Homo sapiens: one gene and its partners. The protein of the gene in region 3 interacts with the protein of the main gene of each other region in a biochemical or structural test. Each region holds a gene or a part of one and is shown on either strand. Other genes may lie near its edges.

Region 1 (3,751 bases), on a different chromosome or scaffold from region 3:
ATCCCGTTTCTACCAAAAATACAAAAATTAGCTGGGCATGGTGGCAGGCACCTATAATCCCAGCTACTCGGGAGGCTGAGGCAGGAGAATCATTTGAACCCGGGAGGTGGAGGTTGCAGTGAGCCAAGATCGCACCATTGCACTCCAGCCTGGGCAACAGAGCCAGACTCTGTCTCGAGAAGAAGAAGAGGAAGAGGAAGAGGAAGAAGAAGAAGAAGAAGGAGGAGGAGGAGGAGGGGAAGGGAAGGGGAAGGGGAAGGGGAAGAAGAAGAAGAAGAAGAAGAAATGCTTATAGAAGAGGCTGGCAAAAACATGGAGACATTAAAATTAAAGTGTGTGTTTTCTTCAGTTTTAGATGTTAATAAGAAAAAGCAAGATATGGACCTGTGTACAGTGAGTGATTCCAACTATTAAAAATGTGCCCCGTAGCAGGAAACAAGAAGGAAATATAGCAACTGCAACAAAGGTTCTCTAGATACTAGAGCTAGGGATGACTAGGGTGGGGAGAGGGAGATTTTTCTGTATTTCCCAAAATGTCTAAAATGAGCACATCGGCAGGGCATGGTGGCTCATGCCTGTAATCCCAGCACTTTGGGAGGCTGAGGTGGGCGGATCACTTGAGGTCAGGAGTTCGAGACCAGCCTGGCCAAGATCATGAAACCCCATCTCTACTAAAAATACAAAAATTAGTCGGGCATGGTGGCACTTGCCTGTAATTCTAGCTACTCAGGAACTGAGGCACGAGAATTGCTTGAATCTGGGAGATGGAGGCTGCAGTGAGTCAACACTGTGCCACTGCACTCCAGCCTGGGCAACAGAGCAAGACTCCATCTCTAAAAAAAAATAATAATAAAATAAGCACATACTACTTTCACAATTTACATTACTGAAGCTTTTGTTTGTTTCAAGGTATGTGTCCAAGATGGTTTGGTTATGGCCAAATGCTGTAGGGTCAAGATAGGCCTAGGAGCACTGTAGTTATGTAGCTATGAGCAGCTAGTCCTGAGCATTCAAACCACCACTGACTCCTCTACTCCCTGCCTATAACCAGACATACAGCAGAGTGGCACCCAAAATGAAGGCTCCCTGACTAGTCTTATCATATCTTGGATGACAACCTCATTTCTGGACGCAAATAGTACCCTTCCTTTCACTTGCCCATGGCCACTCCAACTCCACATGGCCAGAAGTGGCTGGGTTTGAGTCAAGCTCTGCATGGTCAGTAGCCTCAAATGGAAATTTACTTTGTGCTTTAGTATGTCCAAATCCAACTACATTCAGATCAGGGACATACTGGCATTGCCTCAGAATTTGCAGGTCAAATCACTGAGTTATTTCAAGAGATCTGCAAACTCTTTGAATACCTACATTCAAAATTGTACACGATAACAAATAACTCAATTACAAAATGAGCAAAAGATCTAAACAGACATTTCTCCAAATAAGATATGCAGATGGCCAATAAGAACATCATCATCATCATCATCAGCCATTAAGGAAATGCAAATCAAAACCACAATGAGATATCACTTCACACCCACTAGGAGAGATATAATTTTTTTAGTGGGCAATAACAAGTGTTGTGGATGCGGAGAAACTGGAACCCTCATAAATTTTAGTGCAAATGGCCAGGCGCAGTGGCTCACACCTGTAATCCCAGCACTTTGGGAGGCTGAGGCAGACAGATCACCTGAGGCCGGGAGTTCCAGACCAGCTTGACCAACATAGAGCAACCCTGTCTCTACTAAAAAAAAAAAAATACAAAATTAGCCGGGCGTGGTGGTGCATGCCTGTAATCCTAGCTCCTCGGGAGGCTGAGGTAGGAGAATCGCTTGAACCTGGGAGGCAGATGTTGCGGTGAGCCAAGATTGCGCCACTGCACTCCAGCCTGGGCAATAAGAGTGAAATTCCATCTCAAAAACAAACAATTAAAAAAAAAATAAATTTTAGTGCAAATGCAGGCCGGGTGTGGTGGCACACCTGTAATCCCAGAACTTTGGGAGGCCGAGGCAGGTGGATCACCTGAGGTTGGGACTTCAAGACCAGCCTGCCCAACATGGTGAAACCCCACTCTACTAAAAATACAAAAAACAGCTGGGCATGGTGGCACACGCCTGTAATTGCAGCTATTCAGGAGGCTGAGGCAGGAGAATCGCTTGAACCCGGGAGGGGGGTTGCAGTTAGCTGAGATCATGCCACTGTATTCCAGCCTGGGTGACAGGGTGAGACTCCGTCTCAAAAAAAAAAAAAAAAAAAAAAAGACAATGAGGAACTGTCCCAGATATCTGATGAGACCAGGGAGACTTGACAACTAAATGTGATGTAGGATCCAGGATTGGGTCCTGGAACAGAAAAAGGACACAGTGGGACAAATAGCAAAATCTGAATAAAGTCTCTAGATTAGCTAGTAATATTGTATTAATGTTAAATTTCTTGTTTGGATAATTCTGATATAATTATGTACAGTTTTGACATTAGGTGAAGTTAGATGACAGATATACAGAAAGTTTGTGAATTATTTTTGCAAGTTTAGTATAAGAGTAAAATTATTTCAAAATAAAAAGGCCAGGCGCAGTGGCTCACGGCTGTAATCCCAGCACTTTGGGATGCCAAGGCGGGTGGATCACCTGAGGTCAGGAGTTCAGGACCAGCCTGGCCAACACGGTGAAACCCACCTCTACTAAAAATACAAAAATTGGCCAGGTGTGGTGGCACATGCCTGTAATCCCAGCTACTTGGGAGGCTGGGGCAGGAGAATCGCTTGAACCTGGGAGGCACAGGTTGCAGTGAGCTGAGACTGTCCCACCGCATTCCAGCCTGGGCAACAAGAGTGAAACTCCATCTAAAAAATAATAATAATAATAATAAGGGGCCAGGCACGGTGGCTCAAGCCTGTAATCCCAGCACTTTGGGAAGCTGAGGTGGGTGGATCACTTGAGGTCAGGAGATTGAGACCATCCTGGCCAACATGGTGAAACCCCGTCTCCACTAAAAATACAAAAATTAGCCAGGCAAGGTGGCGTGCACCTGTAGTCCCAGCTACTCAGAAGGCTGAGGCAGGAGAATTGCTTGAGCCCGGGAGGTGGAGGTTACAGTGAGCCGAGATTGCGCCACTGCACTCCAGCCTGGAGGACAGAGTGAGACTCCGTTTCAAATAAATAAATAAATAAATAAATAAATAAATAAAATAAAATAAAAAGTTAAAAAACAATACATGGCTGGGAGTGGTGGCTCATACCTGTAATCCTAGCACTTTGAGAGGCTGAGGCAGGAGAATCATTTGAGCTCGGAGATTTGAGACCAGCCTGGGCAACATAGTGAGACCTCATCTCTACAAGAAACCTAAAAGTTAGCTGGGTGTGGTGGTGTGTGCCCGTAGTCCCAACTACTCGGGTGGCTGAGGTGGGAAGATGGCTTCAGCCCAGGAGGTCAAGGCTGTAGTAGGCTATGTTCGTGCCACTGCACTCCAGCCTGGGCAACAGAGCGAGTCACTGTCTCAAAAAAAAAAAATGTACACGATGCAGGTCAGGAATTGGCAATTTTTTTTCCATAAAGGGCCATAGAGTAAATACTTCAGACTCTGTGGACCATATGGTTTTTATGGGAAGTAATCAACTCCACTGAGTAGCATTAAAGCACCCAAAGACAATATGTAAATATATATGAATATAAATAAATGGGTGTGACTGAAATGAACACTGAAATTTTATCTTCCTGTAATTGTCACCTATGTAATATTATTCTTCTTTTA
Region 2 (3,751 bases), on a different chromosome or scaffold from region 3:
ACAAGAAAAATTAAAAGCTTGGTTTCTGATCTTCTAAGCATAATGGAACTGTGTTGTCAAACATGTAGCCAGATATGGCTCTTGAGCATTTGAAGTGTGGCTACTCAGAAATGGGTTGCTTTAGGTACAAAATACACATTGGATTTTGAAGATTTAGTTTAAAAAAGTTAAAGGATCTTATTAATTTTTTTATGTTGATCACATGTCCTAATTGTATTTTGCATGTATTGGGTTAAATGAAATGTATTAAAATTAATTTCACCCGCTTATTTTTAATGAGGCTACTTGAGTATGTAACATTACATATGTGGCTTCATTCTATTTCTAGTTCATTATATGTCTTTTTCCTATCTAATATGCGCTGTAGATATTCATCTAATACTCTCTTTAGACAGAGAAAAATTCTTGAGCAGAAAAAAGATTTGTAAGAGTTGAGGTCTCTTGTCAAAGCTGAGGCTTGGGAAAGAAATTGTGAAGGAGGGGAGCATACAGTTAGCATAGGTGACCCTTGCCCACACACCAGCAAGCCCTGACTGCCCACTGCAGCTAAGTGCAGCCCAAGGGAGATATGGGAGGCTGCCAGTTTCCAACTGAGGCCAAGTCTCCAGAGCAGTGTGGACGGGCTGAGAGAAGGCATTCTGACTGTGAGGAGTGCAGACGAGAAGAGCCTGCAGTCCCAGAGCCCAGTGCATCAAATTAGCAGAAGAAAGAGCCCAAATTCACAACCAGGTGGGACCAATTAAATCAGAACCAGACGCCTGAAAAAGGTCTGCTAACTAGCAACACTGCAAGCACTTGGAGTTCTTTATGCAGAATCTCAGTCTTTCCTGGAATGATTCAGAATCTGCACTTTAATATTAAAGTTCTCTAGGTGATTCTTACGCACATTAAGGCTTCAGAAGCACTGCCTTAGATAAAGGACCTTCTTTCCCAGGTGGATACAATTTAGGGTGCAAAACAGCTAGAAGAGGGAGGGGGACAGAGAATGGCCTGCTATTTAGATACGAAGCATCTTTTAGAATGGAAGCTTGCATCGATATCAAAATGGCTTTCAGAATAAAAATCAGTGACTCAGCAGGGGATACTGGGGCTGGTGTAGGCTGGGGGTTCAGAGTTAGGAATGACAGAGCGGGCCCGTCCACCAGCTGGGAGCCCTAGTGAAAGTGGAATAAAATAGGTGGCAGTTGCATTTATAAGTGAGTTGGGCATGAGTTCTTGCACTTTAGGAATAACATTTTTTTTTATCTTTGTGTAGGGTTATATTTAACCTATTATCTGCAATTGATTATCTAACAGGACTCAATAAATATTTGAATTGGAACATAATCAGTTTCAAAACAAAAAATTTAATTTCCACTTCAAAAGAATTTCTACCCCCTGCATTTCAGAAACCTATAATTTAAAAATTGTTTTGATTGTGCATTTTTTTAAAGCTAGGCATGGAGTTTGCCAGTAATAATGACCATAATTTGTGTCAGGCAGCCTCCTACGTGTTTAAATCTGTCTCACTCAATCCTCACCAAAACTCTAAGATATACATATTACTCCGTCCATCTTATAGATGGAAGAAACTAAAGCTCAAAGAAGTCAAGTTAACAGTCTTCGGGCACACAGCCAGTGTCTGTCAGAGTCAGGATTTGAACACATGCAGTCTGGCTGCGGCATCTATGCTCCTAACCACACATTTCTGTCTCTATTGACTGACTGATTAAAATGTCTCTAACCTCAGTGGGGTCATTTGCAGTGAGAAAGAAAAAGAAATAAAGATATAATGAGTTCCGAAAGGGAAAGGACCTTATCTCTTTCACTGCCCTGTCACCTCTGCCAGAAGTGACAATAAGAGCCAGTCAACAGAACGGTAGACATACCTCTCTGACCCGCACATCTGGGGAATGAGAAGCCAAGAAGTTCCAGATGTAAGCAATATCAGGTGGTCAAAGCTCTTCAGAGCAATCCAAGGCACCTTAAACTAATCTTAAGGAACAGAGCGCGCTCACTCGGCTTTTATCTAAACTCAACCACGCACGACTCTGCTCCGTTCCGTTCCGAGAAAGGCAGGGGATCCCTCCTCCGCCAGCCTTTGGCCGTTGAACGGACGGACCCACAGGTCAGGAGTTTGCGGAAGGCTCATCTCCCAACTCCTTCTGGGAGGAGTCGGGCCGCCTGGGGTGGGGGATAAACGGTGCTCACTTCCTGGAGCGGCCAGGCTGGAGATGGGGGAGGGGAAGGGGGAAGGGGGAAGGGGGAAGGGGGAAGGGGGGAAGGGGAGAACGGGGGAAGGGGGGAAGGGATGCTGACTCTGAATCCACGCCTGACAAAATGGTTTGCAGTGATTCCCTAAAGCAGTTTCCAGAGCTGCCTCCTCTACATACTTCAGCTTGTAGAATAGAGGTTTAACTCTCTTTACACGGCCTATTCCCAGCTGCAAAGGTGCCTCTTCTGTGCTCCCTTCCCAAACTTGAGTTCACTTGAAAATGCAGAAGTCTCCCTCATTCTTCTTTCACCCGTGAACCACCCCCAACCCGACCTGCAGAGCGGGTCAAACTCTCCAGACAAGTGGGGACAGCGGTAGCTGGCCAGAAAATAAACTTGCTCACTAACCTGGAATCTGTGGCCTGGATCAGAGCCAAGGACTTGAAGCAGCCGCGTCCTCCACCCAGGCCGAAAGACTCAGGGGGGAAGGGGCGGGGCCTGGGGAGGAGGAGGGTCAAATTGTCCAGCCCCGCAGGAGATCCAGCCGATTCCATGGGTGTGGTCACCAGTGACCCCTCAGGTGGTAAGGGAGATGGAGATGGTTTCTGAGGCCAGGCGCGGTGGTTCACCCCTGTAATCCCAGCACTTTGGGAGGCCGAGGCGGGCGGATAACGAGGTCAGGAGATTGAGACCATCCCGGCCAACATGATGAAACCCTGTCTCTACTAAAAATACAGAAATTAGCTGGGCGCGCCTGTGGTCCTAGCTACTCGGGAGGCTGAGGCAGGAGAATCGCTTGAACCCGGGAGGTGGAGGTTGCACTCCAGCCTGGAGACAGAGCGAGACTCTCTCTCAAAAAAAAAAAAAAAGAATTTTTGAAGGTAGCAACGCAAAGCTGTTCATCTTACCTGATGAACGGCAAATCCGGAGGCCTTTGAGAACACCAGGCCAGAGATGACCCTTGTAAATTGTCTGCAGTGTACTGTAGCTTTCTAATATCATATCAGAGTTTAATTACACTGATAATACACCTGTACTCCATATAGACGTATTAATTAAAATGTCTAAATAAACATATAAAGTTATACGAGTAAAAGCCCCTTTGCATAATGGCATGTTTTGCCAAACGATCATTAAAATTCATCAGTTTAAAATTACACGTATGTATGTATAAAGCTGTGTGTGTGTATCTGTAATTTTGACCTATATAACTAGAAGACAATCTTTGTTTTTATTTAGGTCTGATGAATACATGTAAAGCTTATTGAGCCTCAGAACTCTAACTACAGGGTTTCAATAGCACAGAAACTCTGAGAAGAAAAAGAATGTCAAAGTTCCTCCCTAAGGAGACTGATTAGGTGAGTATCACCTTGCCTTAGAAGGTGGCTTGGGGAGGGAGGTATAGAGAGAGAAGGGACTGGGGTGTCCATACAAAAGTCTGGACGGAGGATTGGGCAGTAGGGAGAGAGCTGGGTTAAGTATCAAGAGATTTCTCTGGACAGTCCCCAGGCAAATGAAAGGTCATTGGAATCTCGTAAGTGCAGACATGTGTCACTAT
Region 3 (3,751 bases):
AGGCAGAGGTTGCAGTGAGCCAAGTTCACACCACTGCACTCCAGCCTGGGCAACAAAGCAAGAATCCGTCTCAAAAAAAAAAAAAAAAAAGAACTGCCTAACCACATAGGCCACAGGGCCACCAAAGGACTCTTCTTCATCTCTAAGGTGATTTACCTTCCAGTGTTCCTCAGGACAGTATGGGGTCAGCAAGAGATGGTATGGGGTCCTGTTGCAATTTTTGTATCACTTACAGTGAGGGTTTCCTGGGGCAGCTATTCTAAAAATTGTTCAGTTTGCAGAACAACCTCTTTGCAGAAAGCTATAATTCATTTTGTAAAAACATGAATAATGATATATGTAAGTACCCTTCATAGACTATTTTTCTTACAGAAAATGATTCCTCTATGTATGCAATATATGAAGTTATGATGTGTGTCCACAAAAACACAAACCATCAAACTAAGCATGATTGACTATTTCTGGGCTTTTTTCAGCAATACTCATTTATAACTTGGTTCATTTGTTTTATGGTCTCCTTCAATTTCCCTGGAATCCAATAGTAGTAGGTGCCAAAAGTCCTATATAAATCTATGGGAGAAAATGAAAATAATCAGCTACTTTCTTTTTTTTTTTAGACTAAATCACAAGGAAAAAAGCTACTTCCCAGGAGTTTGAGACCAGCCTGGCCAACATGGTGAAACCCCGTCTCTACTAAAAATACAAAAAATTAGCCAGGCATGGTAGCGGGCACCTGTAGTCCCAGCTACTCGGGAGGATGGGGCAGGAGAATCGCTTTAACCCGGGAGGCAGAGGTTGCAGCAAGCTGAGATTGTGCCACTGCACTTCAGCCTGGGCAACAAGAGCAAAACTCTGTCTCAGGAAAAAAAAAAAAAGAAAGAAAGAAAAAAAAAAGTTACTTCCTTCTACCTTCAAAAATATCACCATTATAAAGTTTTAGCTGTAGACCAACTCAGTCTGTTTCTTGGAAGTTGAATTTTACCCAAGAGCACAGCCTGAAAACCCGTCCTGATCTGTGAGGCTGAGACACGCTGCATAGGAGCAGTGGAATGGGAAGATGAAGGAAAGAGAGAACCAGGGCTGAGAATGAGAGTCTAGACTCTAATGATAATATTAATATGTAATAACGTATAACTGGCATGAACAGAATTGGCCACAGAACTGCATGCACATTTTATCTTTCCAGAATTTTTCAAGTACTTTTGGTTAACACAGTGTACGGATGAGCAAATGGGTTTAGAAAGCATCATAACTAGCTCGAATTCACACAACTAGTAGAAGGAGCCTCAGGATTCAGAACCAGGGCAGTCTGACTCCAAGGCCAATACTGCTTTTCTTTACCGAAAAAAATAAAATAAAATTCAAATATGGATTGCTAGACATTTTAAAGCTGAGTATTTGATATTAATACTACAACTTTGCCCTTTTCAATTCTGTCTGTCACCAGACTCCCATCTTATAACCTATTTTGCCTGATGGCTCTTGAAATGACAACAGCATTGGTTGGCTGTTGATCTTTTACTGCCTGAACATATAACATTAACAACTCTTTTACTTCTTTAAGTTAACTTTAATATTTAAAATACCTTGGAAACCATTTCCTTCCTTTGCATGCTTGGGTACAAGGTAAAATGGCTTTAGTCGTAGTTGCTTCCTAACTTTTGCTGAAAGCCAGTTTTGAATGCGCAGGCCTTCTTGGGTGCTAGCAGGCCAGCTACTTTTTGATTCCAAAGCCAGGGTTATATCCACAGATATTTTTTCACTAATAAGAAGTGTTACAGCAGGGCTCCCTCCTCTTTTCCTCTTCATGATGACATCTGTATCTGGTTGAACATATAAAAGAAAAGAAAGTATTTATTAATCCAATTTTCTCTGGAAATACAGGGGAAATAATGTAACTATAATTGAAGATCTCTGGTGTGCTAAGTATGAAGTAAACATTAGTGGTAAAACAGAAACTGGCTCTAAAAGGCAAAGTATTTTACTAAACCAATATTGGCTGGGCATGATGGCTCATGCCTGTAATCGCAGCACTTTGGGAGGCCGAGACAGGTGGATCACTTGAGGTCAGGAGTTCGAGACCAGCCTGGCCAACATGGTGGAACCCCATCTCTACTAAAAATACAAAAATTAGCCGGGCATGGTGGCGAATGCCTGTAATCCCAGCTACTCGGGAGGCTGAGGCATGAGAATCACTTGAACCCAGGAGGCGGAGGTTGCAGTGAGCCGAGATCACATGACTGCACTCCAGCCTGGGCGACAGATTAAGACTCTGTCTCAAAAAAGAAAAAAAAACAAAAAACAAAAAACACAATAATTACTGATATCTCCCATTGGGAGGCATTGTCAAGATGGTGTGGGGCATATATGATGAAGGGGTCTCTGTAGACTTTGAGGTTTAAGAGTGCTGTGATTAAATTTTCTTCTTTTCTTTTCTTTTCTTTTTTCTTTTTCTTTTTCTTTTTTTTTTTTTTTGAGACAGAGTTTCACTCTTATTGTCTTGTTGCCCAGGCTGGAGTGCAGTGGCACGATCTCGGCTCACTGCAACTTCTGCCTCCCGGGTTCAATTGATCCTCCTGCCTCAGCTTCCTGAGTAGCTGGGATTACAGGCATGTGCCACTGTGCCTGGTTAAATTTTCATTACAAATTATAGATGGCAGAATGGAGGGAAGCCTAGAGGAGAGGCCAGATGGGCAAGAGGGAAGAGACAGGCAGCAAAAAGACCACAGCAACAGCCTGGCACAGAGGCTGGGTGCCACGGCAGCACAGAGGTAGTGAGCATCAAGACACGGGGAAGAAGTGAGAGCAACTAAAGAAGTCCAAATCAACATAAGTGGTCATGAGTTGAGGCTACGATGTGAGGAGGAAAGTAGGAGCCTTGGGATGCCATCCCAGGATCTTGGCCTTCCTAGGCCTAATGGCTGATGTTGGTTCCATTCCTCAAAATAGAATAAGCAGGAAGAAGAAAGATTGGGCCAAGCTGAACTTCATGAGATACAATGAGCTCTAGATACCTGTGGGACACTCAAGTGGAGATGGCTGCTGGGTGGGTGGCTATGGTCAGAAATTTAGATGGCTTTGGGAGTTGGGGGTTTATAAGCAGTAAAGACTACTACTGTCAGATAAGACTTCCACAGTGACGAAGTAGAGCACAAAGGAGAAAATGCTAGAAAAATCTGCAAACCTGGCCACCTGTTACCCAAACCTGGCCACCTCTCCTGTTACCACTGAGGAAGTAAGTGTCCATCTACCTTACTTTTTTTTGAGACAAAGTCTTGCTCTGTAGCCCAGGCTGGATGCAGTGCAGTGGTGTGATATCAGCTCACTGCAAACTCCACCTCCCAGCTTCAAGTGATTCTCCTGCCTCAACCTCCTGAGTCGCTGGGATTACAGGCATGCACCACCACACCTGGCTAATTTTTGTATTTTTAGTAGAGACAGGGTTTCACCATGTTGGCCAGGCTGGTCTTGAACTCTTGAGCTCAAATGATCTGCCTACCTTGGCCTCCCAAAGTGCTAGGGTTACAAGTGTGAGCCACTGTGCCTGGCCCTCCATCTACCTTTCAAAGGCCACCTCTGCCCATAGTCTCTGGATCCCTTCCTTCTCAACTTCTCAAGTACCATGCTCTTCAAGTATTTCCTCTCCTACATCAGCCATCTCTCCCTCCCTGCTAGATTATTCTGAAATTCATACAAAGGGTTATAGGGTATACCTCTCCTTTCACCCCACATCTTCCTCCTCTCCATACTC

The links.
Region 1: of the proteins of CGAS (region 3) and RNF185, one has a biochemical effect on the other in vitro, tested with the Homo sapiens proteins (2 studies listed by BioGRID).
Region 2: the proteins of CGAS (region 3) and TRIM6 form a complex in vitro, tested with the Homo sapiens proteins (one study listed by BioGRID).

Annotation. Positions count from the first base shown.
Region 1 is NC_000022.11:31,163,093-31,166,843, reverse strand, and holds part of RNF185 (E3 ubiquitin-protein ligase RNF185), read right to left. Parts: intron 1-3,751. UniProt on the Homo sapiens protein: E3 ubiquitin-protein ligase that regulates selective mitochondrial autophagy by mediating 'Lys-63'-linked polyubiquitination of BNIP1.
Region 2 is NC_000011.10:5,595,032-5,598,782, reverse strand, and holds the start of TRIM6 (tripartite motif-containing protein 6), read right to left. Parts: upstream 2,147-3,751; 5' UTR 1,886-2,146; coding exon 1,869-1,885; intron 1-1,868. Other genes in the region: TRIM6-TRIM34 (tripartite motif-containing 6 and tripartite motif-containing 34), read right to left, coding at 1,869-1,885.
Region 3 is NC_000006.12:73,438,623-73,442,373, forward strand, and holds part of CGAS (cyclic GMP-AMP synthase), read right to left. Parts: intron 1,824-3,751; coding exon 1,587-1,823; intron 1-1,586. UniProt on the Homo sapiens protein: Nucleotidyltransferase that catalyzes the formation of cyclic GMP-AMP (2',3'-cGAMP) from ATP and GTP and plays a key role in innate immunity.